Regions from separate parts of the Homo sapiens genome. Here regions 1 and 3 are each linked to region 2. The links come from fine-mapping of genetic effects on gene expression. A gene starts in region 2. Each other region holds a variant in brackets. All regions are shown on one strand. Distances are between the middles of the regions.

Region 1 (8,167 bases), 40 kb before region 2:
TTCCAAAGAGGATAAACCAGAAAAAAGCCATTTCCATCAAGCTTTCATCAGACAATATCACATGTACTTTTTTTTTCTTTTATGTGCTGGGTTCTGTCAGATCACATGTACTTTTAATGTGGATTTAATAGCAGCCATTTGTTTAGTAGCCCCTCTGTGCCAGCTACTGTCCACATATGACCTTACTGAATCCTTGTCACAGTACATGATGTAGCAGGATTTACTGGTGAGGAAGGGGAGACATAGGTTAAGTGACTACTCCCGGTCACACAGCTGTGAGGTGGTGGTGCCAGAGTTGGAATATGGCCCTTTCGGACTCCAGAGTATGGTATTTATTTCTTCACAGGTGCTCTCTTTTCTGCTGTGGCCTGTGTGAATAGCCTGGCCATGCTGACGGCCTCCGGCATCTTCAACTCACTCTACCCAGCCACTCTGAACTTTATGAAGGGGTTCCCCTTCCTCCTGGGAGCTGGCCTCCTGCTCATCCCGGCTGTTCTGATTGGGTAATGCAGGGCCCTGAACCCATGCTCATAATGGAGCCCTTTCTCTTAAAAGTTTCCTCTTCTCCTCCCAACCAGAAATGGCAGCTTCATTCCTGGAATCCTTACCCTCTGGGTGTCTTGTCCCAGGTTGCCCCTCTCCTTGCAGATGGCTGCCTAATCCTCCAGGAGCCATTTTCCAAGGGCGAGATGGCGAGCTAGGTGGAGGAAGGATCAGGCTAACATTGCTGCTTGGCAAGGCTGTGTTCTCTCTCCCAGTTCCCCTATTTCCCTCCATTCCCATTTTATAGATGGAACTATGGCAGCAGAACTGTGTTAAAGGGAAGGCCAGGAAGCTTTGTCAGCTAGTTGTGGCTGGGCCACAGGCTAGCTTGACCCGCTGACTTTTTCCTGTATGATATTAAGAATTATATTTCATGGCCGGGCGTGGAGGCTCTTGCCTGTAATCCCGATCCTGTGGGAGGCTGAGGCAGGAGGACCACTTGAGCCCGGGAATTCAAGATCAGCCTGGGCAACATAGCAAGACCTTGTCTGTATAAAAAATTTAAAAAATCACCCAGGCATGGTGGTATGCACTGGTAGTCCCAGCTACTAAGGAGGCTGAGGCAGGAGGATCACTTGAGCCCAGGAGTTCAAGGGTACAGTGAGCTATGATTATGTCACTGCCCTCCAGCCTGGACAACAGAGCAAGACCCTGTCTCTTAAAAAAAAAAAAGTTATTTTCCAGAGCCATGTCCCTGGATATTGTCCTCCAGCTCTCAGCTTCTCAGCTTGGGGAAGGAGGAGGTTCAGGAGAGCTACCTGGACCAGCCCACCCCAGTAAATCCTGTGTCACTTCTCCAGACAGGCCTTGAGGGTTCCCCACATGAAATCCAAACTCTCTCTCTGGTCTCTCACAGGATGCTGGAAAAGGCTGATCCTCACCTCGAGTTCCAGCAGTTTCCCCAGAGCCCCTGATCTGCCTGGACCAGAAGACAGAGGGCAAGAGGAGCAAAGTGAACACCAAGCAACTGGAGGTCTGCAGCTGGAAGCCCAGCCCACAGCAGGACAAGCAACTCTTGTCTAAGGGCAGTGCTCTCTTTGGACGAGGTAGTCAAGAGAGACCAAGGCACCACCCCATCCACAGCTGACCCAGCCTCTGTCTAGGATCTAGAATCATAACCCACACAGGCCCACTGCAGGACAGGTGGCAGAGGAGCTATTTGGGACAGGAGTCAGTTCTCCCTTTCTGCTATCCATCACTTATAACCCCACAGGCCAGAGGAGAGGTCCTGAGAGAGGTGACACTTCAGGGACCAGAGGCAGCACGAGGGCTGGCATCTCTCCTTCCAGCCCAAACTGCACAGCCCCAACCAGGTTCCCAACACGTGTAGCAGTCATCAGCCATTCCTTAACAATGAATGTGGTACCTGGTTAGTGCCAGCCTTGGGAAGGAGGGAGGGAGGTAAGAGGGGCTTGGTGATCTCTGGAGGAAGAGTGTTGCCTTTGCTGTGGTTGGGGAATCGATCCTTGGCTATGGCCTACCCACTCCCCTGGCTGAAGAGTGCCAATCATTACAAATCAGCTTCAGCAAACTGAAACAAACCTTCTGGTGCCTTGGGCTTTGGGGCCCTCTGTTTTCCTGCTCCCAGTCTGCCTGCCATACGTTAGACAACAGAAGCTGCTGGGCTGGGCAGGAGCCCTGAGCTGCCTGGTGGATTGGTACCAAGTGGGGCCAGCCAGGGCTTCTACTGACTCGCTGTGCAACCTTGAGCAAGCCCCACTAGGAACGGCTAGATCAGCAATGCCCCAAATTGTTGAATCGTGGTGATCACATTTGGATGGACAAGTTAGGAAACTTAGCTGATTCTCTGAGATACTTCCCACTTCCTCATACATTCTACAATGAGATGCCTCTCTTCATGGGCCTGGGGAAAGGATGAATGAGTGTGGCTGGACTTTTGACCTTTAATGTCCCTGAGCAGTTCTTGGCCCTTGGGGAGAAGTAGGGGGAGGATCTGGCTGACTCAGCCCCAACCGAGGGGTAGCAGCTGCAGCCCAGCCAAGCAGAACACCCTGGCCCTACAGACCTGTGTCTGAGCAGGCTTTGGAGGAAAGGCCACTTCTGAGTCCTCTGTCTCAGGAGAAGCCAGGCCTAGGTGCTTGACCTGGTGATCTGAGCTGTGTTTGTCCTAGTATGGGTGGCAGTCACCTCTGAACACACTGGCCTTGGCTTAGAGGAGGCTTGTGACTTCAGCTGTTCCAGCTGGGGCTGGATGCTGGACTCTGATTCCCTCAGAGAGACAGAAGATCGGGCAGAGGTCAACCAGAAGGCCACACAGGGCAGTGGACAACAGTGGAGGGTATACCAAATAGAAATAAAACGCAGGAAACCTCTCTGAATACTGCCCTTGGGGACCTCAGGAGGGAGTGGGACTGATTGGAGACAAAGAGCCAGAAATCATCCCCTGGAGATACTCAGACACTGTATTGTTATTGGCGCTGTCCTGTGAGGGCAGTGTCCAGGCTGCCCTGCTTGTCATATCCATGCCCTGGCTCTGGCCCCGGTGAGCACTTGTGCTGCATGAGGAAAGGAGGATCAGGTGGGGTCAAAACCAAAGCATCGAGGCTGGCACTGGCCAAGACAGACTCTGGCAGGGAGGGGAGTGGAAGGAAGGAGCCCCAAACCTGGAGTGAGACCTTTGACTTTCTGATGATGTGGCCAAGAACTAGGAGTCACCTGGCCAGCACAGCCAAGAGTGGGGCTGGGGGCGCAGCCAGCTTTAAGGTGTCAACACCTGGCCCTTGCGGGGAAAGAGCCTTCAGCAGCCCCCACGGCCTGGAGCCTGGGTTTATTGGAGGGTGCTTTCTTACCCTCTGAACCCAGTGGAGGAGGGGGCAATGGGATATTCCTGCTCTGTATGGCCTCTGGGTCAGCTTTTTGTTGCAAAATCCTATCCCCCGCTGCTAGATTCTTTGAAGCAAGGGAGAAGCAATAGCCCAGCCTCAGAATGATTCTCAGGAAAGCAATTCCACTGCCAGTGGACTGGGTGCCAGGAGGCCTAGGTCTGGATCTGGGGCTGCCACTAATGACAGGAAAGTGGGCTTATCCTCAACCTTTCTGAGCCTCAGTGTCATTATCTGTAAAATGGGGATGATAATACCAGGTAGAGTTGCTCTGATGACTGGAGACCATGGAGCGGAGTGTTTGGGAAATGGCAAAGATTTGTGAGGGCTTCGTGCTTTAGAGATTTGCTACCCTTAACCACCAGCATCAGCTCACCTGGGAATCTGTAAGAAATGCAGAGTCCTAGGCCCCACCCCAGATCTCCTGATTTTAACAACATTCCCAGGTGACTTGGATGCATGTTAAAGTTGGAGAAGCTGCCCTAAGTGACAACCCTTTGCCTTTTCAGGACTTTGCCTCTTTCCACAGAGCTGCAGGTTCTGTCTAGGCTGCTTTTACTGCCATGGGGGCTGCCTGGTCCCTGAGTAAGCAGTGGGTAGCCCTGGATGGCTGAGGGGCTGGGGAAGCCAGCTGGGCCAGACCAGGAAGGAGCCTGAGGCACAGCACCAAGGCATGGGGTAGGGTGGGCTTTGAGGCACGGCCTCCCCATGCCCAGACCCAGGCCCAAACAGGAGGCTCCTGTGCACCAGCAAGTGCAGCAAAGCTGGCTGCAGTGACAAGGAAGTCAGAGGGAGGGCTGGTTTGCCTCAACCCTCGCCCTGGATGTGGCAAAAGATACCACACCGAAGGAAGCTGTAGGGGATCTGGGACTTAGTCAGGCTAGCTAAGGGCACTGAGTGATTACAGGGCAAGGCCACAGAGCGGCAGGAAGTTGTAAGTGCAGGGGCCAGGCACAGTCTGAGTGGAGAGCCATGATGGCACTCATCCCTGGCTGGCTCCTGGGCCCAGGCCCTTGCTCAGAATACAGTGCCCAGGCCCGCCTGGGCATTGCCTTAATTCCTGTCTGAGGCTGCCTTCC[G/T]TCATCCTCCTCAAGCTGACTGCTATCAGCAGGAGAAGGGAATGCAGAACCACCCCCACCCCAACTCCAGTGTCTCCAGAACTGAGCAGGGACCCTCCCCATGACGGAGACAGACAACCCAATGGCAGGGCCTGGGGGAGTTCTAACCTCCCGTGCCCAAGCCTGACTTCCCTTCCCTCTCCAGATACTGAGGAAAGTGGGTTGGAGGTGGGCCATGAGGGTGGGGGACAGGGGGAGGGAGAGCCATTTCCTAAGAAGAGCCCAGGTTGTCTCAGCCCAGGGAGACTGGTTTCAGGAGCTGTTCCTTCAGAAAGGACGATGGAAATGGAAGTCACAGCAGGGCTGGGGAACTGGGGACTGGTTAGGTTGGACCCATGGGTGCAGCACCCTCCAAACTGGTGTCAGAGCCTGCAGATGAGTCCCGGGAGGAGCGGCCCTGCAGGAAGCGGATGATCTTCTCAATGGTGGCCTCCTGGTATTCGTGGGACCACCTGTGGGCACAGGAGCCAATGTGGTTCAGACAGCTGGGCAGAGGGAGCTGCTAGTCAGCTGTTTGCCCACACTCTGCCTGTCATGGTGATTTGTACCCTACCCCCCTGGTCCCAGGGCCCTGGGGCTCACTTGATACCGTTGAAAGTAAGCACAGCCTGCATGTCCTCAGGCAGGACCTGGGGCTCAGGCCACTCGAAGCCATCAATGATGGGCACAATGTTCTTGCCGCAGCTTAAAGCAGTCACAATCTCCTGGAGAAAGAAAGGAAAGGAGGAAGATACCCCTGTACCCATCTAGGGACCCTTGTAGCCAGGCAGGTGCTGGGAGGCCCACTGGCCCGAGGCTGGGCCCAGGGCAGGACACCAGTCCTGATGTCCACCTTGATGTCTACCTTAACCCTTGTAGTGTAATAAAAAATAAATATTTTTCCTTTGCCCAGAGTTCCTGGCACAGAGCTGCTAAAACCCTTGGAATCTCTTGAGTGATGAGTGTCTTTGTATGCTAAAGAGATGATTCCCCACTGGGGGCCCGGGGGGTGCTATGGGGGTAGCCTAGATAGTTTCAGGAAGAGGGCTGGTCACCAGGGAGACCAGGGCATGACTAGAGGATTGGAACTTTCAGCCCCACCTCCCAGCCTCCAGAGAGGTGCTGGAGATTGAGTTCAATCACCAATGGCCAATGATTTAATCAATCATGCCTACATAATGGAACCTCCATAAAAACCCCCAAACAAGGGGTTTTGAAGAGCCTCCAGGTTGATAAACAGGTGTAGGTGCTGGGAAGGTGGTAGAAGGCATGGCATCCACACCTCCACCCTCCATACGTAGAGATCCTATGTATCTCTTCCATTTGGCTATTCTTGAGCTGTGTCCTTTATAACTGTGAAATTAAATAATTCAGCTGGGCATGGTGGGTCACGCCTGTAATCCCAACACTTTGGGAGGCTGAGGCAGGAGGATCACTTGAGCCCAGGATTTTGAGATTAATAATATTATTTATTACTATTATTCAAGCTTTGTTAAATCAAACCTAAAGCTCTTGGAACTTTAAGTTATTCTGAGCCTTGACAGGAATTGGTCTCTGCAGCCTGAGTCATGGGGCATGCAGCTGCAACTTCCACCTATTTTTTTTTTTTCTGTAATTACTTAGGAAGACCAAATGGCACCAGAGATAAGACTCCCTTAGATCCCCACTTAGATCACCACCCTTTCTCAGGGGGTAATAAAGTCATCTTCCTTGGAATGTAGCAATCTATAACCAATCAAAGCACTGTAACATACGCACTGGTCTTGTATGGAAAATGTTGTAATCCTGCTAAAATTCCTCTCTCTTTGCCTGTGGAAGTGAAACCTTAACTTCTCCAGTTTGGAATGCTCACCCCATGCCTTTGGAGTCAATGCTTACTGGGTGGCTATTCTCAAACTTTGCACTCAAAGAAACTCTATACTTAGTCTTATTTTCTGAATCTCATTATTTAAGGTTGACATAATAAACAACTAATAGTAAGTAAAGTGCTTTCCTGAGTTCTGTGAGTCATTCTGGCAAATTGAATCTCGGGGTGTCATGGGCACCCCCGAATTTGTAGCCAAATCAAACAGAAATGTGGCAGCCTGGGGGCCTGGGCCTCGTGACTGACATTTCAGAATTGAATTGAATTGCGGGATACCCAGTTGGTGTTGGCAAGCTGGAGAATTAGTGGTTAGTGTGGGAAAAACCCCAAACAATTTGGTGTCAGAAGAAAAACATCACACTCCTGCGTACAGGTTGATCCATCATGCGCCCTGCCAATTGTACTCCTTACTTATTTCTCAAATCCACTATTTTTCCCTACCTCCACCCCACTACCACCCTCTTCCAATCCCCATTATCTTTAAGCCCCCACCAGGTCTTTCCTCATCCACGCTTGTCTTCTCTAATTCACTCTCCACATTGCCCTTTCATGTAGCTAATATTTGCAAAATGCACATCTGACAAATTAGGTCCTGTCACCCCCTACTTAAAATTCTTCAAGACTTTGCATGGTCTTAGAATAAAGTCCAAACTCCTTCATGTGGCCTGTGAGACCCTATGTGGTTGGCCACAGTCCACTTCTCAAACTCTACCCCTGCCCTGTCCTCCCAGACACACAAAATAAGCTTCCTTGTCCTTCCCCCTTGATAATGCCCATTCATTTTTCTGATCTGAGCTCAATCAACTCTTACACAGGGCAGTTGTCTCCCACTGCCCTGACCAAGTCAGTTCCCCTATTATAGGCTCTGCAGAACATATTATAGTTGCAAATTTTAATTAATTAATGGGTAAATTACTCAGTATTTGTCTTCTCTGCCAGACATGAGGAGGGATCATATCTATTTTTCACTGACCTTATATCTCAGCATCTTTCACAAAGCCCTTATAGTTAGCCCTTGCTAAATATTTAATAGATGGATGAATGAATGAATGAGAAAACATAGCACAGCAGTTAGGGCTGCACTCTGGAATCATCAAATCGGGGTTTGCACTGAGTCTCTGACACAGGCTCTACGACCTGAGGCAAAAATAATAGGTTCTCAAAGTCTCTGTTTTCTCTTTTCTTTCTTTCTTTTTTTTTTTTGGCGGGGGGCAGGGGAACAGGATCTCACTTTTTGCCCAGGCTGGAGGGCAGTGGCACCATCAAGGCTCACTGCAGCCTCAACCTCCTGGGCTCAAGCCATCCTCCCACCTCAGCCTCCCAAGTAGCTGGGACCACAGGCGTGTGCCACCATGTCCGGCTAATTTTTTGTATTTTTTAGTAGAGATGGGGTTTCACCATGTTGCCCAGGCTGGTCTCAAACTCCTGGCCTCAAGTGATCCTCCCACCTTAGCATCCCAAAGTGTTGGGATCACAGGCCTGCACTACCACACTCGTTCCTCTGTTTTCTAATATATAAAGCAGGATTAATGATAGTCCCTGTCTTCAGGATTGTTCCATGGAATAAGCGCAACATTCCATGGCAAGTAATTAGAACAGTGCTTTGCATGCAGTGTATGCTTAATACGTAATAGGTGTTATTATTTCCTCTTCTGTAAAGTGGGGATAATAAAACCTACCTCAAAGCGTTGTTCTGAGGAATTATTTGCTAGTAATCGGGTTCCATTAAGTGCTTATTGAATGTTTTTCTTCCTCTCAAGAGGGAACCAAAGGGATTTTACTTTTTTGAGTGCAGTTCACTTGTGGTTTTTCCCTATTGA
Region 2 (8,167 bases):
CTAACTGGAGCTGAATACAAAAAGTCTGATGGGTTGACTGAGTCGGTGACTGCCAATTGGAGCCTGAAGCCCCCAAAGTCTTCTCTAGACTTGATGATGAAGCACCAGTTACAGTTCTCCCAGCTCGCCTTCCATTGCCCGCACCATGACATACAGCTCGGCCAGACCCACCACAGAGGCGACGATCAATGCAGCTAGCACCCGCTGGAGATGGGGAGAACCAGGCTTAAGGGATGCAGGCCAACAACCAGCTCTGTACCCCAGCAACTTTAATGAGGATGGAGAGCCCCCCAACCACCCTCTAAGTTGGGGGAGGGGAAGAAAAGAGAATGTGGCTTCTCCTGGGGTTATTACCTAACCTCCCGTGACTGCTGGAAAGCTCTAATGCTCCCCTTATTAATGGCATAAATATCTGTTCAATACCTAACCTGTGCAAGGCACTTTCACATACGTCCTCCCTTACCCACTAACACCCCCACCAGGGGCACCCTGCCCTGCCCAGTGCCTACTCACCGAGGCCATTTCTGTGAAGATATATTGGCTTCCAAGGTAAGTGCAGACGAAGGCAGCAACCACCGTGACAATGAAATTGAAGATGGTGATGACCAGAGCCTTCAATGATCTCACTTTGGGGAGGAGCCAGAGAGGGCACCTTTAGTTCAACATTCTCTAGGAGGTGCTCTTATCTCATGGCTCCCCCACCAACTGGGTTTCAGTCAAACAACAAGCCTGAGTGTCATGACCCATCTCAGGAAAAGGTTTTAGAAGCCTGATCTCCTAGTACCTCACCTTGCTTTCCCAGGTCGCTGAGAGTCCCACCATGTCTTGTATCCTGGGAAAAAGAAAAAGAAGATGATTCAGAATAGAAGCAGCTCAGAGAGCATCCATTGACAGTCTGGCTCAGCCCTCTCTATTCCCCAACATATTAACTCTGCCCTCCCCATGGATTCTTTTGTCTGGAACCATTTTGACTCTTTTCTGGACTACAGAGCAGGCATTTCGGAGAGAGGACATAGGCTGCCAGTACCCATCTACTCTCCTGTTCCAGGGTAGGAGCATGCCATAGAGTAGTAGGGAGCCCTGTCAGAAGAAATGCTCGAATGGCTGGGCACAGTGGCTCACCTTGTAATCCCAGCACTTTGGGAGGCCGAGGCAGGAGGATCACCTTGAGGCTGGGAGTTCAAGACCAGCCTGGCCAACGTGGTCTCTACTAAAAATACAAAAAATTAGCCTGGCGTGGTGGTGCATGCCTGTAATCCCAGCTACTTGGGAGGCTGAGGCATAAGAATCACTTAAACCTGGAAGGCGGAGGCCGCAGTGAGCAGAGATCCTGCCACTGCCCTCCAGCCTGGGTGACAGAGTGAGACTCCATCTCAAAAAAAAAAAAGAAGAAGAAAAAAAGCCTCCAAGATTCATTCCCACTTATTTATTTATTTATTTATTTATTTTGAGATGGAGTCTTGCTCTTGTTGCTCAGGCTGGAGTGCAATGGTGCAGTGTTGGCTCACAGCAGCCTCTGCCTCCGCCTCCTGGGTTCAAGTGATTCTCCTGCCTCAGCCTCTCGAGTAGCTGGGATTACAGGTGCCCGCCACCACGCCAGGCTAAGTTTTGTATTTTTTGTAAAGACGGGGTTTCACCATGTTGGCCAGGCTGGTCACGAACTCCCGACCTCAAGTGATCCACCTACCTCAGCCTCCCAAAGTGCTAGGATTACAGGCATGAGCGCCGTGCCCGGCTAACTCCCACTTCTATGACGTTTAAAACTTGGTCACCATCTCAGCCCAGAGTCTCAGTGAATGAGATGGGAACTGTGTTGTTTGTATGCAGACTTCCTATGGTCCCTGAACAGTATAGAAACCAAGTTTCCATGTTTTTTCTAAACTCTGTATCTTCTTCCACTGCAGGGCCCTACTCTGAGGGGCTACCTAGACCACGTACTGAAGAGCATGTCCTTACCTGACAAGTGACGTTGCGGGTGATCCGTTTATATTCCTCATTGGCCAGCTGTATCTTAATCTTCTCCAGCCGGGCAACTAGTTCTGGGTTCTGAAGCAGAAAAATCAAATGAGAAGAATGATATTCCCAGCTTGTTAGAAAGCACATCACAATCATTGGTTCCAGGGGTAAAGCACTGCTAAAGGTATCAGGAGACCCACATACTAGTCGTAACTCCAGTGCTTTGAAACTGTTTTTTTTTTTTTTGATCTCAATTTTCCAAACAGCTGATGGGGAGGACAATATCTGGCTCCCCCAGATCCCAAAGATTTCAAAAACAATTTTTCAAGCCTAAAAGTTGATTTATAAGTTCAGTGTATCATGGATAAGCCCAACTCAGTCAATAACCACTCTCACAAACATATCCCTTACATACCCGTGGAGGCTTCACAACCTCTGGGAGATAGATTTCACTGCCTTCTAGGAGCTCATGGAGGTATAGTTTGGAATCTGAGAAGAAAAGGTTTCACAAACACAATGATCCACGAGCTGAGGTTGAAGGGTTAAGATCAAGAGGGGTGTAGCCCTTCTTTCTACCAAAATAAAACAGGGCCATCTCTACATTAATCCATTTCCAGGATCATTTTCAATTGAAAAGAATTTTGGATAATTCCATGTAGGTATCTCCCAGTGCTGCGCAGGTGACTTTAGCTGTCAGCTCTCAATTATCCTGCCAGTGTTATAACTAACAAGTAAGCCATTTACTTGTGCCTTTGGGTTAGATCAGTTCTGTGGCCACAACAGCTCTTCCCTAAATAAGTTTAGGTCATAGTGATGCTAAATGCTCAGAGGACACTAATACTAGGCAATCTCTTTCTAAGGTCCTTTCTAGTTCTAATAATTGAGCAGTCTACCCTTTGCACTTCTGGCTGGTCTATGTTACTTCTGGCAAAATACCTTATGTGCTAGTTTGTCCTGTTCCTTCCCTTTACACATAAGGGAACTGAGGCCCAGCGAGGAGAAATGACTCCTTCAAAGGATTAGTGACAGAGCTAGGACTGGAACTCACATGCTACTCTCAGGCCAGATCTTTCAACACAGCTTTTGCCATCCTATATTAAAAAAACAAACAAACAAAACAAAGTATCAGATTTCACCACTCTTGCTTTTGAGGTGGAAAGAAATCCGGATTCCTACAAGCTCACTATGCTAAGCTGATTCCTAAAGTGGAGAAAAAGAAGAGACAAAACCTGTGATATTTGTATTTGGTAAAAACCTAGACTTTCTCAAGGGTGAATTGGGCCTAGGTGTGCCTGGAAGTGAAGAGGGGGCTCTCAAAAGAGCAGAAACTGCACAAGCAAATTTGTCATCCACGAGAAATTCCCATGGGAGTTAAGAAAGTGGGTGGCCCTGGGATTTATGGAGTGACTCTTGACTTGTCTAGATGAGTGCTCCGTAGAAGAAGGGGAATGATGGGAAAAGACCTCAGGAGGGAATCGATCTGGACACAAGGAGGGGACCCCGGACTGGAGACTGGGGCTCACCCCTTTCTCTCAGATGCTGGTGCAGATCCCGGATGAGACGGAAAGAAACCAAGCGTTGGGGGCCACTGGAGCTATCACCGCCCTTGTGCTTCTTCCCCAGCGCGGCCTCAAGCTCGGCCCGCAGCTTTCGGGGTAGCCGCTCTGGCTCCAGCTCCCCGCCGGGGCCCAAAGCACGCACCAATCGCTCGCCCGCAAGCAAAGAGGACGCCATATCTAGCCGGCTCTCCGGTCAGGTGACCCCAACCCGGACTTCCGCCCGCCGCGCGCCGGAAGTAACGCTAAGCGCACCGGAAGTTGCTCTGAGCTCCGGGGTGGGACCAGGCGGGCCAAGAGGGCCGGGACGCCGCGCGGGGCAGTGTGGGACTGGGGCGGAACGCCGCCCGGCCGCGGGTCGGGCTCTGTGTCAGCAGCCGGGCGGGCGCTCGGGCGGGACATGGCAGCCTGTACAGCCCGGCGGGCCCTGGCCGTGGGCAGCCGCTGGTGGTCCCGGTCGCTGACTGGGGCCCGGTGGCCAAGGCCGCTCTGTGCGGCGGCCGGAGCTGGAGCCTTCTCGCCAGCGTCGACCACGACGACGCGGAGGCACCTCTCGTCCCGGTGAGGGACGGAGCCAGGGGGCGCGAGGAACTGGGCCTGGAGCCCAGAGAGCGTGTTCCTAGCCAGTGCGGAGGCCAGGGGCCCGGGCCTGCTGAGGGTGACTGGAGTTTGACCCGGGAGAGGGTCCCGAGCAGGGAGCCGACCTGCGCTGTCTGGGACATGTGCCAGGAGCAGGGAAGCCAGCGCGGCCCAGAGCCCTGGTTGTACAGGGCTGGCCCTGGGGGGGAACAGGTTACCCTCCCCAAGTGAATCCTACTTCCCCGGCTGGGGTCCCCAGCACCGATGTCAGAGGGAAGCTTTTTAATTCAGCCCTAGGGCATTGGCTTGAACCCTCAGCCTTTGGATTTGGTGAAGGTCTGCCTCAGAAAGATGCTAGAGGTGGGAAACGAGACTCTTGGGTGTGGACCCTCGTAGGCCCCAGGTTTCCAAGTGACTTTGGGGAGATCGATTTTCTATCTGTGACTTGGGGAAGGGGGTTTGAGGCCATGGGGATGGTGTGGAAACTGTTTCCACGGATGGGACAGGCGGATCAAATGGGCTGGTGGATCAGTGGGAGGAAGCATAAAGTTCACATCTTCAAAACAGTAAAAACAGCCTTTATTTGAAGGGCCCCTAGAAAGAGCAGCCCTGTTCAGAGTGGTGACTGACATTTTAGTGGCTGATATTAGACACTGAACATTGGGGAGAGATGATAGCTATTTGCAATTTAAGACCCCTGTGAGAATATGAACAAAAACGGTATTGAGAGAGCGATGTGCCGTAGGAAATCTAGAGATGTTTAAGCTTTTCAAGGGCAATGTAAGGGCTACAGGTTAGAGGGGGAGATGGACATGGAATTATAATACAGGACAAATATTTTTTGAGCACCTCTTGTACACTAGGCTCTGAGGGGGCAGTACCAGCTAATCAGACTCAGGCATTGCTCCCAGGGAATTTACAGTATTTAATAAAGATAAGACATGGACACAACTGAAATGTAAAGGGAGCAGGATATTGTTTGATGACTTGTGATATAGAAAATGTAAGAAAAGAAGAAAAAAAGATACTCCCCTTCTAAAAAAATTGAAAAAGTGAGCAAGACAGTTAAAGTGCTGTGGGAGGTCAGGAGGGTGGGTTAGGGAAGAAACAAGGGCAGGGGTACATTTGAGCAGAGTGTGAGGGCATGATATGAAGAATGCCCAGTGAAGAGAGAAGACAGTAGTATGGGAGCGGTCACATCTAACACTGGGAGACTGTGGAGGTTTTCACCAAGGAGGAGGAAAGCCTTTCCTGCTCCAGCTGGTCCCACTACCCCAAACCCTTCTCTGCTGTCATCGCCCTGGCCCCTCAGTATCCTAGGAGCTTTTTCTTATGGATAACTACCATTACCTTCTCAGCTTTTCTGTTGCTTGTTCTTTTCCTTCCTACTCAGAAACCGACCAGAGGGCAAAGTGTTGGAGACAGTTGGTGTGTTTGAGGTGCCAAAACAGAATGGAAAATATGAGACCGGGCAGGTGAGTATTGGGCTGGGTCATCTTTCATTTTCATAGAGTGCTCTGCTTCTGAAAAAAGTCAGATTAGGTCACAGGCCTGCATGGTATGGTGTTCCATTCATTCCACCTTGATGTTTGGTGCCATTCCAGAATCAAATTTGTATTCATTTTTTATTTTATTTATTTATTTTATTTATTTATTTTTTGTGAGACGGAGTTTCAGTCTTGTTGCCCAGGCTGGAGTGCAATGGCATGGTCTCGGCTCACTGCAAGCTCCACCTCCTGGGTTTAAGCAGTTCTCCTACCTCAGCCTCCCTAGTAGCTGGGATTACAAGCATGCGCCACCACACTTGGCTAATTTTGTACTTTTAGTGGAGATGCGGTTTCTCCATGTTGGTCAGGCTGGTCTCGAGCTCCCGACCTCAGGTGATCCACCTGCCTTGGCCTCCCAAAGTCCTGGGATTACTGGCGTGAGCCACCGCACCCAGCCCAGAATCAAATTTTTATAGATAGGGTTTCTGTTCTCCTGGATTTGAATGCACTTAATGTGTCAGTGGGTTCTCTTTCCAAGTTAATGTGGACAGGGATGGTGTGGACTATAGTGAGGTTTAGCCAAGTTGCTGAAGATTTCTCTAACATAGTGGATGGTGGGAAGCCGTGGAGGGAGCTTTCAGAAAAGTATACCTTTGATGCTTTGCCGTAATAAAATTGACTTCAGTGTGGTAAACTCTGGATGTGTGGTTCTTTTTCTATATCAGCTTTGTTCTGGGTCCACTGGGATAGATTTAGGCCCTTCTAGGATATTGTAGGTAAGGAAGACTTTTTGTTTGTTCAACATTTTATTTTTCTGTGTGCCTACAATGGACTAGGCATTGTGCATTAGGGTTAAATCAGAAAGCAAAGTAGACATGATTCCTGCTATTGTGGAGTTTCTAGTCTAGAAAAGAACGATTTGCAAATGGCCAATAGCTGTACATTGTGCTAAGTGGAAGGGAGGTCAGGGAAGGCTTCCTGGAGGCCTAAGCTTTTACCTAAAGGATGAGTAGAGTCAGCCAGGTAAAGAAGAAATAAGAGTGTTCCAGCATTGGTCTGGTTGATCACAGACTTCAAGGGAAGAGGTAGCAAGACCTTGTGCTGGAGTTGCCTCCACCTGTGTTGCTTTGTGGTCTGGGGCCCACCTGGATGGATTTGCTGGACTGCAGACTCACTGAGGCCCCTCTTTCCTTCCAGCTTTTCCTTCATAGCATTTTTGGCTACCGAGGTGTCGTCCTGTTTCCCTGGCAGGCCAGACTGTATGACCGGGATGTGGCTTCTGCAGCTCCAGAAAAGTAAGTTTCCCTGTGGTTGTGCCTCACAGTATCCTCAGGAGGAGATGGCAGACATATGTAATTGGGGTACTAGGGGTGAAGACAGCGTCCTCCTAGGCCTTGGAAACATCCCCAGAGTACTTCTCTGGGACTAAGACCCATGGAGACAAAAGTGCTGAGTGCCAGGGATAGTCTAAGTCAGAGAGTCCCTTTAGGCCTCCTCAGAATGCTTTCCTAAGCCATTCCTAATTTTCATTATGAGTATCCCAGAGGGCATTTGGGGGACAAGTCTTCTTGATTTCTTGATGTTCAGCTGGAGTCTTTCCCTCAATCTCACATCATCCCTAGAATACATTAAAACAGAAAAGGTTCAGCCCCATTAAGTGATCACAGACAGTCCCTGGGATATAAGAAGACAAGAGTACTCTGGGCCCTGGGGACTGAGGTGGCAATTTGATTTTCTCAACATGGCCCCCTTCTTTTAAGAGGTATCCACACGGTCAGATGATGGCTCCATACCATGGTCTTCCATGCTCTATTATTTGCCCCAACTGAGGAGCAGCTGAGCTGAGGTGCTGCAGAGCAGGTGTCCAGCTGGTGCTAAAGCCCCTTTAGATCAGAGACCAGCCTGTTTAGGTGAGGAGGAGTAGGGAGCTGAGTCAGCCACAGCTTCCATTTCTCCTGGGGTGATCTTGGCCTCCTTCTCCCACCCCATAGAGCAGAGAACCCTGCTGGCCATGGCTCCAAGGAGGTGAAAGGCAAAACTCACACTTACTATCAGGTGCTGATTGATGCTCGTGACTGCCCACATATAGTAAGTAAGCAAGATGGCTGGGCTTGGGGGTCCTCTCCATGGAAAGTCCTGCATCCCAATGGGGACAAAGGGAGGGAAGGGGGTCAAACAGAGCCCAGGTCAGTCTTGGTCCCCAAGGCCTTGGACTGCACAGTGGCCAACAAAGCCCTGATTCACGTCTTTTTTTTTTTTTTTGATATGGAGTCTCACTCTGTCGCCAGGCTGGAGTGCAGTGGTGAGATCTCAGCTCACTGCAACCTCTGCCTCCCGGGTTCAAGTGATTCTCCTGCCTCAGCCACCCGAGTAGCTGGGATTACAGGCATCTGCCACCACACCAGCCTAATTTTTGTACTTTTTAGCAGAGACATGGTTTCACCACTGATTCACTTCTTGCCTTAGTCTCAGAGATCTCAGACAGAAGCTGTGACCTTCTTGGCTAACCATGATGACAGTCGGGCCCTCTATGCCATCCCAGGTGAGTAGTTAGCATTTGAATGGTGCCCGTCAAGAAGGAGTCTGGTG
Region 3 (8,167 bases), 31 kb before region 2:
TGCAGCAATTTATTTGGAAATTTTTAGAAATTTGTTTCATCCAGAATTATACAAAACCAAAGACAGTACAAATTATTCATCGCACAGATTCAGAGGCTGGCCAAGAAAGGGATAATGGCGGCCGTGTGTGGTGGCTCATGTCTGTAATCCCAGCACTTTGGGAGGCCAAGGCGGGCGGATCACGAGGTCAGGAGATCGAGACCATCTTGGCCAAGATGGTGAAACCCCGTCTCTACTAAAAATATATATATATAAATTAGCTGGATATGGTGGCGTGTGCCTGTAGTCCCAGCTACTCAGGAGGCTGAGGCAGGGGAATCACTTGAACCCGGGAGGCGGAGGTTGCAGTGAGCCGACCAAGATCTCACCACTGCACTCCAACCTGGTGATAGAGCAAGACTGTGCCTCAAAAAAAAAAAAATAATTAAATAAATAAAAGAAAGGGATAATGGTTTGTTCAGGATCACCTAGCTGGTTGAGAACGAAAACAATTAGAGTCAAGTCCTCTGGCTGGGCACGGTGGCTCATGCCTCTAATCCCAGAACTTTGGGGAGCCGAGGCAGGCACTGAACTCCAGGCTTGAGCTCAGGAGTTCGGGACCAGCCTGGGTGACATAGCGAAACCCTATCTCTACTGGAAAAAAAAAAAAAAAAACGGAGTCAAGTCCTCTAACCTGGTAAATCTACTAGATATGTATGGCTCTCCCAGGCATGGCATCTCAGCTTCATCAGTATCACTTGTCTGCTTAATCATTGATTCAATTGTTCTATAAACTCCTCTACAGCCTCAGCCTCTCTCTCTCTCTCTTTTTTTTTTTTTTTTTTTTTGGTGCAATTGCATAGAGCCTCCTTTGTACCATGCATGGTTTTAGGCACCAGGGACACAGATGAATGAGGCAAGGTCTGAAGTCTCATGGAGCTCACAGACACTCTTTTCTTTCTCTCAAAAGGCTGCCTGCCACGTGCTCTGGGTTATCAGCCATGTTCTTCCTGGATGCTCAACTGCCCCAGTGCCCCTCCCCAAACCAGGCCTAGTACTCAGCCCCTCCTACATGGCCTCTGGGGCTTGACTCCACACTCCATGTGGACTGCATTCCAGTGTCAGAGCCTTCATCCTAAGACCCACCGCCCTGGCATCTTCTCCTTCATGGGCTCCTTGATTTCCAGTGCTTTAAGCACAGGTCTTCTCCTGCCTTTAGACACTGCTTTACCTGGTTTCCATGGTTCTTATCCAGCCAGTGGTGTGCTGCTAACTTTATAGTAACTAGCTATTCATGGGGGAAGAAAACCCAACCAGCCAATCAACCAAACTAACAAAACTTTGATTTGTAGTGGTTGCCAATTTCCTTGGTGTAAATACTCCCACCATGGCTGATGACAAGCTACCAACATGACATCACTGGATGTGGAGTTGTGAAGAGATACAATCATCTCTGGTGTCAACCGAATCCAGCCCTACCCCATCACCTCCCCTCACACCCCCTCAGAGCTGTGCCATAGAATGCAGTGTGGATCTTGGGAAAGTGATGAGCTTTGGAGTCAGATAGATGGAATTTGAAGCCTAGCTTTTCTGATTTCTACACTAGTAGTGCAGCCAGGGGAACATTATTCTACTTTTCTGAGCCTCAGTTTCTTCATCTGTGATATGGAGAAAGCAGTACCAAGATGTATGTGGGCTTTCAGCACTGTTCTCCTCCCTACCTTTATTCCTTTGCTCATGCTGTTACCCTGGCCTGGGATGCCTTCTATTCCACTTACCCAGATTCTTAAGATTCTTCTCAAGACCTGCTTCCTCCATGAAGTCTTCCCTGATTATTCCAGTCCTTTGAGGACTAAACTCTGATTTTTTTTTTTTTTATCTTGCCCAAATTCCTACCTAAGGAGCCTAGGGAGTCATGCCCTACAAACCATAAAGTCTTATCGGAGGAGGTTTTAATTTTAACCCTATATAGCGTGGTCTGCTTTCTAACCTGACTCTAGCATAACATCACATAATAAGGGAGGAAATAAAAATATTTTAACCCCAAATATATTTCCCTGCCATATCTTGAAATTGCTCCACAAGTTTGTCTCTTGTGGGAAAAGGCCACATTCTATAGAGAATCCCCTTCCCCCCATTTTTTTCTTTTTCTTTCCGGACTCAGGAGATAATCAACAAAGAGCCAGGCACCCTTATAAGTCTGATAAGAAACATTTTATAACCTACTCCCTCTGAAGTCTGCCCTGAGAACTTCCTCTGCACAATAAAACTTGGTCTCCACAACCCTTTATCTTAACCTAAACATTCCCTTTCTATTGATCCCAGGTCTTCAGATAAACTCAATTAATTATCAACTGGAAAAATTTAAAATTTACCTATAGCCTGGAAGCCCCTGCTTTGAGCTGTCCTGCCTTTCTGAACCAAACCAATGTACATCTTAAATGTATTGATTGATGTCTCGTGTCTCCCAAAAATGTATAAAACCAAACTGTGCCCTGATCACCTTGGGCACGTGTTCTCAGGGTCTCCTGAGGGCTGTGTCACAGGCCATGGTCGCTCATAGAGTCTGACTCTTTTCGTTGACACCTTGATGCTCTCTCCCTTCTCCAAACCCCTGTGGCAAGCAAGATGTTTGCTTACCTGGCTCAGCATTTACACCAACTTGTATGCGATCTAGTCATTTTGAGACAGGGTCCCACTCTGTTGCCCAAGCTGGAGTGCAGTGGTGTGATCTCCGTCTTCTGGGCCCAAGCGATTCCCCTGCCTCAGTCTCCTGAGTAGCTGGGATTACAGGTGTGCGCCACCATGCCTGGCTAATTTTTGTATTTTTTTAGTAGAGACAAGGTTTCACCATGTTGCCCAGGCTGGTCTCGAACTCCTGACCTCAAGTGATCCTCCTGCCTCAGCCTCCCAAAGTGCTGGGATTACGGGTGTGAACCACTGTGCCCAGCCCTCTGGGCATATTCTTGTCTCTGAGCTGACTGCTTGTCTCATCCTGTCTCTTAGATGACTACTGCATCCCTCAGCCCCAACTCCAATTCCTACTGACCGATTAATGATTAATAACCTGAAGATGCAATATGGAGCTATCCATCAATGCATTCTGTTAGTATTCAATAAGTTCCTACAATGCGTCAGGCACTGAAAATACAATGATGAATTAAACAGATATAGTAGTTATAATAATTATATTAATAATAATAATTGCTACCATTATTGAGCAGTTACTATGTGCCAGCCATTCTGCTAAGCACTTCACAAATTTTGGCTTTTTTAGTCCTTATAACAATGTTCTAGGGAGTTAGATACTATTATTATACCCTCTTTCCAGAAATAAATATGAAGCTTATCGGGGTTAAGTAACTTGCCCAAGGCCAGAGCCAGGATTCAAACTCTCAGTTTTGAGCTCTCAACAACTATTCCATTCTGCCTGTCGCTATGCTCTCCTGTCTCTCATGGAATTTATTTTTCAAAGCATTTTTATGTCTCTCTGATCCTCACAACAGTTCTATAAGGTGAGTGGAACAGGTAAGTTACCCCATTTTGCAGAAAAGAAAACTGAGGCTCACATCCTGGCTAACACGGTGAAACCCTGTCTCTACTAAAAATACAAAAAAATTAGCCAG[C/G]CGTGGTGGCGGGCACCTGTAGTCCCAGCTACTCGGGAGGCTGAGGGAGGAGAATGGTGTGAACCCGGGAGGTGGAGCTTGCAGTGAGCCAAGATCACGCCATTGCACTCCAGCCTGAGTGACAGAGCGAGACTCTACCTCAAAAACAAAAAAAAAAAAAAAAGAAAAAGAAAACTGAGGCTCAGAGAGCCAAAGCCTAGTCTCTTGTCCCTTGTGGTTTGCTAAAGTCCTATTACAGTCAGAGCTGTGGTTCCTGACTTCCAGCTGGGCCAAGGAGGTGCTTCAGGGCTAAGTGTGCCGGGATGTGCAGACAAGAAGGAATAGAAGACGACCCTATCTTCTGGACCACAGGCCAATGCTGGGACCGCAGAAGCATAGGCAGGCACCTACCTTATGCACCCAATCCTTGCAGTCATGGTCTTGCATGCACTTGTCCAGTGCTCCAGGTGATAGCACCAACACAAAGTTGCGGGCACCCATGACACTCTGGATGAGTTTGTCCTCGAACTTGCCTGCTTCCAGCTTCTCCACATCAATGAAGACACTGAAGCCATGCAGCTGCAGGTGCACCTTCAGGAGACTGCAAGTAAGTCCTGTGTCAGTGCCACAGCCTTGTCCCCACGCCCCGTCGCTGCCCGCCCGCCCCTCCTCACCTGGCCAGCTGGGAACCTGAGTTCCGGCGGTAGCTGATGAAGACATCTGGAGTGTCCCCACTGGGTTTGCCACCAGTACAGGGCAGCGGGGAGTGTAGCATTTCTGAAGTGGGCAATAGGCAGCATGGTGAAGGTGGCCCCTCCGCATCACTCACTGTCAGGTATATCATCCCTTGTGGACTTAGTCCCCAGTCCACCAAGCCCTCTCAGCCCAGCCTGGGGAGGGTGGCCTGCCCCAAAAAGGAGAAATGGGGCCTCCAGGAGGAAGGTCATGTTATTGTTGGGTTCCTCTTAGGAGGCAGGCACTGTGTTCTAGGGACATTGATATGCATGCACTTCCAGCCCTGACCTCTCTCTGGAACTCCAGACCTGAACAGCCAGCTGCCCACAATCACTCCAAATTCAACACACCCCAAATCTCCCCCTCATTCCTTCTTCCCTATTTCCCACCAAAGCCAGACACCTGGGTATCAGCCTCAACTCCTGCCTCCCATTTAATTTATTCAACAAATACATCCTAAGCACTTGCTGTGTGCCAGGACTGTCTTCAGTGCTTGAGATTCAGCAGTGAGTAAAACAGACAGCACTCTGCTCCTCTGGAGCCACGCTCAGTACTAAGCGCCAGGCACCGCATTCTGAGGATTCTACCTACTAAACATACTGGACTCCAGCCTCCGGGCCCTTCCCTGGCTCAGGTTTCCAATGCCAGCCTCCTCAATGGCCTCCCCAAACCCAGCTAGAATTGCCCAGTCTAGGCCAGGGCAGTGGCCCACACCTGTAATCCCAGCACTGTGGGGGGCCAAGGTGGGTGGATCACTTGAGGCCAGGAGTTCGAGACCAGCCTGGCCAATATGGTGAAACCCTGTCTTTACAAAAAATTATCCAGGCATGGTGGCACATGTCTGTAATCTAGCTACTTGGGAGGCTGAGGCACGAGAATCACTTGAACCCAGGAGGCAGAGGTTGCAGTGAGCCAAGAATGCACCACCGCACTCTAGCCTGGGCGACAGAGTGAGACTCTGACTAAAAAAAAAAAAAAAGAAAAGAAAAGAAAAGAAAAGAATTGCCCAGTGTAGTCCATTTGCCACAGCTACCAGAACATCTTTCTAAAATCCAAATCTGAGCATGTCATTCCTCCCACTTAAAAACTATGCATGGCTCCCTACTCACTATACAAACTATTTTTTGTAAGCTATTTTTGCCCTAGGATTTTCCTGTTGTTTAAAAATGAAATCTTGCGCTGGGTGCGGTGGCCCACGCCCGTAATCTCAACACTTTGGGAGGCTAAGTTGGGAAGATTGCTTGAGGCCAGGAGTTTGAGAACAGCCTGGGCAACATAGTGAAACCCTGTCTCCACAAAAAATAAAAAAATTAGCTGGGTGTGGTGTTGCGCACCTGTGGTCCCAGCTACTTGGGAGGTGAGGTGGGAGAATCACTTGAGCCCGGGAGGTTGAGGCTTCAGTGGGTTGTGATTGCGCCACTGCACTCCAGCCTAGGTGACAGAATGAGACCTTGTCTCAAATTAATTAATTATAATAAAAATGAAATCTTGAAGTTTTAATGGGAGCTGCAATGTAAAAATAATAAAAGCCAACCTGCTTTGGTTGAAGCATAAGAATGCAGCCAAAGCTCAGTCCCTTGTGTCTTGTGGGTGCTTAGTCTGTAATTGCTGAATGAAAGGATAAAATGAAAAGAATTCATCTTCTTATAATATTTAGACATAACCCTCATAGACAACATTTGTTTGTTTATGAAGCAGAAAGACAAGGGCTCAAGTCCCAGTTTTGCCATCTAATGACTTTTATGACTGTGGGAAATGTATTTGAATTCTTTAAATGTTAGTTTCATTATCTTTAAAAGGAACACCCATGATGGAAATATTCTATATCTTTAATGATGATGGTGGGGGTGGGGGGTCACACAGATGTCTTTCAAAACTCCTCAAACTGATACTTTTTTTCTTTTTTGAGATAGGGTCTCACTCCTGCTGCCTAGGCTGGATGGAGTGTAGTGACCTGATCACAGTTCACTGCGGCCTTAACTTCCTGGGCTCAGGTGATCCTCCCACCTCAGCCTCCCAAGTAGCTGGGACTACAGGTATGCGCCACCACACCTAGCTAATTTTTTGTATTTTTTTGTGCTTTTAGTGGAGATGGGCTTTCACCATGTTGCCCAGGTTGGTCTCAAACTCCTGGACTTGAGCGATCCGCCTGCCTTGGCCTCCCAAAGTCCTAGAATTACAGGCATGAGCCACGGTGCCCGGCCCTCAAACTGGACACTTACTCCTCTTTTTATTCTTTCAAGAGTTCTTTAAGGTTGATTTTAAAAACTGAACACTCATTGCATAGAATCAATATAGAGACTGATGGGATAATATCTTAAAAACCAAACAGAGTACCTTGTAATTGACAATAAAGATTAGCTAAGTAGTAAATTAGTAAGTAAAAATAAATTAGTAAATAAGGAGGGTGGCTAGAGGCCTAGAATTCACTCTAAACCACCTCTAGACCCAAATTTTGTAAGCTGTTGGCCAATAGGATAACACACATACGCACACCCTTCCCGCCTACACCCCACTGCATGGACTCTCCATAGGCCGCTGCCTCTGCCTGGGCTGCCCTTCCTGTTGCCACCCCTCCCCGCCAGTGCACCTCTCAAGACATGGTCAGGCATCCTGTCCTCTCTGAAATCTAGACCTGGGTGGATGGGGTGGGCTGGGCTTCCTCTGTGCTCCCACTGGAGACCTGGGTAGCTTCCTGCCGGGGCCGCTTGCCTGTTTAATAGCCTCCTTCCTCCCACCGCCTACCCACCTCAGACTGGGAACTTCTTGAGGTAAAGTGCAACGTATTCATCTTTACATCCTCAGAGCCCAGTGTGACCCACGTTTGTGCTCAATCAATCCACGGCGAGGCTGGAAGGCTCCACCCCGTGTCTCCCCTCACCATTCCAGGGCCGTGGCTGGGGCTGGGGCTGGGGCGGGGTCCCGGGTGAGCGGGCTGACCTCTGGCCGCCGTGAGGATGCGGGCGCGGTGCACGCCCAGGTGGATGCCGCAGTCTTCCAGCAGCTGCTGCTCAGACACGCGGTGCAGCAGGGAGCGGTCCAGGCCGCAGCTGACCAGGCCGTAGGTGTACTGGCGGAAGCGCGGGTCCAGGCTGCCCAGCCAGTCCGCCAGGTTGCTGCGGTCGCACGTAGAATAGTTGGCGAAGGTCTTGAGCTCCGTGAGCTCCCTAAAGAACCTGCACCCCACGGAGGAGAAGACGCTGAGGTCCAGACTCGGACGGGCTGTGGGCGGAGGGGGAGCTTATTTAGACCTAGCTGGGGTCCGGCGGGCAGGAGGCTCCGTACCTCTTGCGGGTGATGCCCGATTTCATGCCCAGGTCGGTCTGGAGTTCCTCCTCCGTGAGCCGCAGAAGCAGGTCGCCATCCACCTGCTGCTCCTGGGGGAGGAGTCGGGTGTCAGGAAGGGCTTCGCTACTCCGCCCTTGGACCTCGAGCACAAGATGCAAGGGAAGGAACTGGAGATGGCGTGGAGGAGGCGGATGGGACCTAGATCAGAGCCGAGTGACCCTAACGGTGGCTGCGTACAGGCTCCCCGCCCCCAAAAGCGACCCTGGCGCCGCGGGATTGCGAGGCGGGGAGGGAACGCAGTCCCTGTGCACAGGGCGCCCGCTCTGACTCGGGGGAGGCGTATCCCACGCGACTCTACCCGGAAGCTCTCGCAGTACTTGGAGAAACCGATCTGCTGCAGCCACGTCTGAACCTCGGCCTCCTTCCAGCTGGGCACGGAGGGCAGGATGGGCCGTGGCACCTCCTCGCCCAGCAGGCGCAGCGCGCGCTTGGCCAGCGCCGACTTAGTGCCATTGGTAGAGTAGGAAACCAGGCGTTTCAGGCTCTGGATGGCGCCGATG

Direction of the effects. Positions count from the first base shown, and alleles are read on the strand shown. Sizes are in standard deviations (SD) of each study's normalised expression.
For the expression in breast of the gene that starts at base 3,834 in region 2, G is the high allele of the variant in region 1 and T is the other (small effect, 0.20 SD a copy in GTEx).
As copies of C replace G in region 3, the expression in prefrontal cortex of the gene that starts at base 3,834 in region 2 goes down (moderate effect, 0.60 SD a copy in BrainSeq).

The links.
Region 1: its variant is fine-mapped to the expression of POLDIP2 in breast (GTEx, PIP 0.92).
Region 3: its variant is fine-mapped to the expression of POLDIP2 in prefrontal cortex (BrainSeq, PIP 0.91).

Annotation. Positions count from the first base shown.
Region 1 is chr17:28,392,946-28,401,112 of GRCh38, reverse strand. SARM1 (sterile alpha and TIR motif containing 1) reads right to left here. Exons shown (of 9, transcript NM_015077.4): 8 at 5,087-5,208; 9 at 1-4,956. The coding sequence ends at 4,827. It overlaps SLC46A1 (solute carrier family 46 member 1), which reads left to right. Exons shown (of 5, transcript NM_080669.6): 4 at 347-503; 5 at 1,400-6,471. The coding sequence ends at 1,457. Among named protein-coding and RNA genes, the nearest start is that of SLC46A1, 9.2 kb to the left of the region's middle. RefSeq lists enhancers at 2,528-2,617, 3,382-4,065, 4,749-5,432. The variant G/T (reference allele first, on the strand shown) is at 4,466.
Region 2 is chr17:28,353,194-28,361,360 of GRCh38, reverse strand. It overlaps POLDIP2 (DNA polymerase delta interacting protein 2), which reads left to right and starts at 3,834. Exons shown (of 11, transcript NM_015584.5): 1 at 3,834-4,073; 2 at 5,485-5,566; 3 at 6,776-6,873; 4 at 7,570-7,666; 5 at 8,045-8,120. The coding sequence starts at 3,913. VMA12 (vacuolar ATPase assembly factor VMA12) reads right to left here and starts at 3,714. Exons shown (of 6, transcript NM_152464.3): 1 at 3,480-3,714; 2 at 2,372-2,445; 3 at 1,957-2,046; 4 at 790-832; 5 at 514-626; 6 at 1-204. The coding sequence starts at 3,690. The coding sequence ends at 109. MIR4723 (microRNA 4723) reads right to left here and starts at 707; the gene lies at 627-707. RefSeq lists enhancers at 3,457-3,556, 3,669-4,434 and a silencer at 3,747-4,136.
Region 3 is chr17:28,384,368-28,392,534 of GRCh38, reverse strand. It overlaps SARM1 (sterile alpha and TIR motif containing 1), which reads right to left. Exons shown (of 9, transcript NM_015077.4): 3 at 7,966-8,167; 4 at 7,605-7,696; 5 at 7,260-7,495; 6 at 4,259-4,361; 7 at 3,996-4,185. Among named protein-coding and RNA genes, the nearest start is that of SARM1, 17 kb to the right of the region's middle. RefSeq lists an enhancer at 7,519-7,588. The variant C/G (reference allele first, on the strand shown) is at 3,606.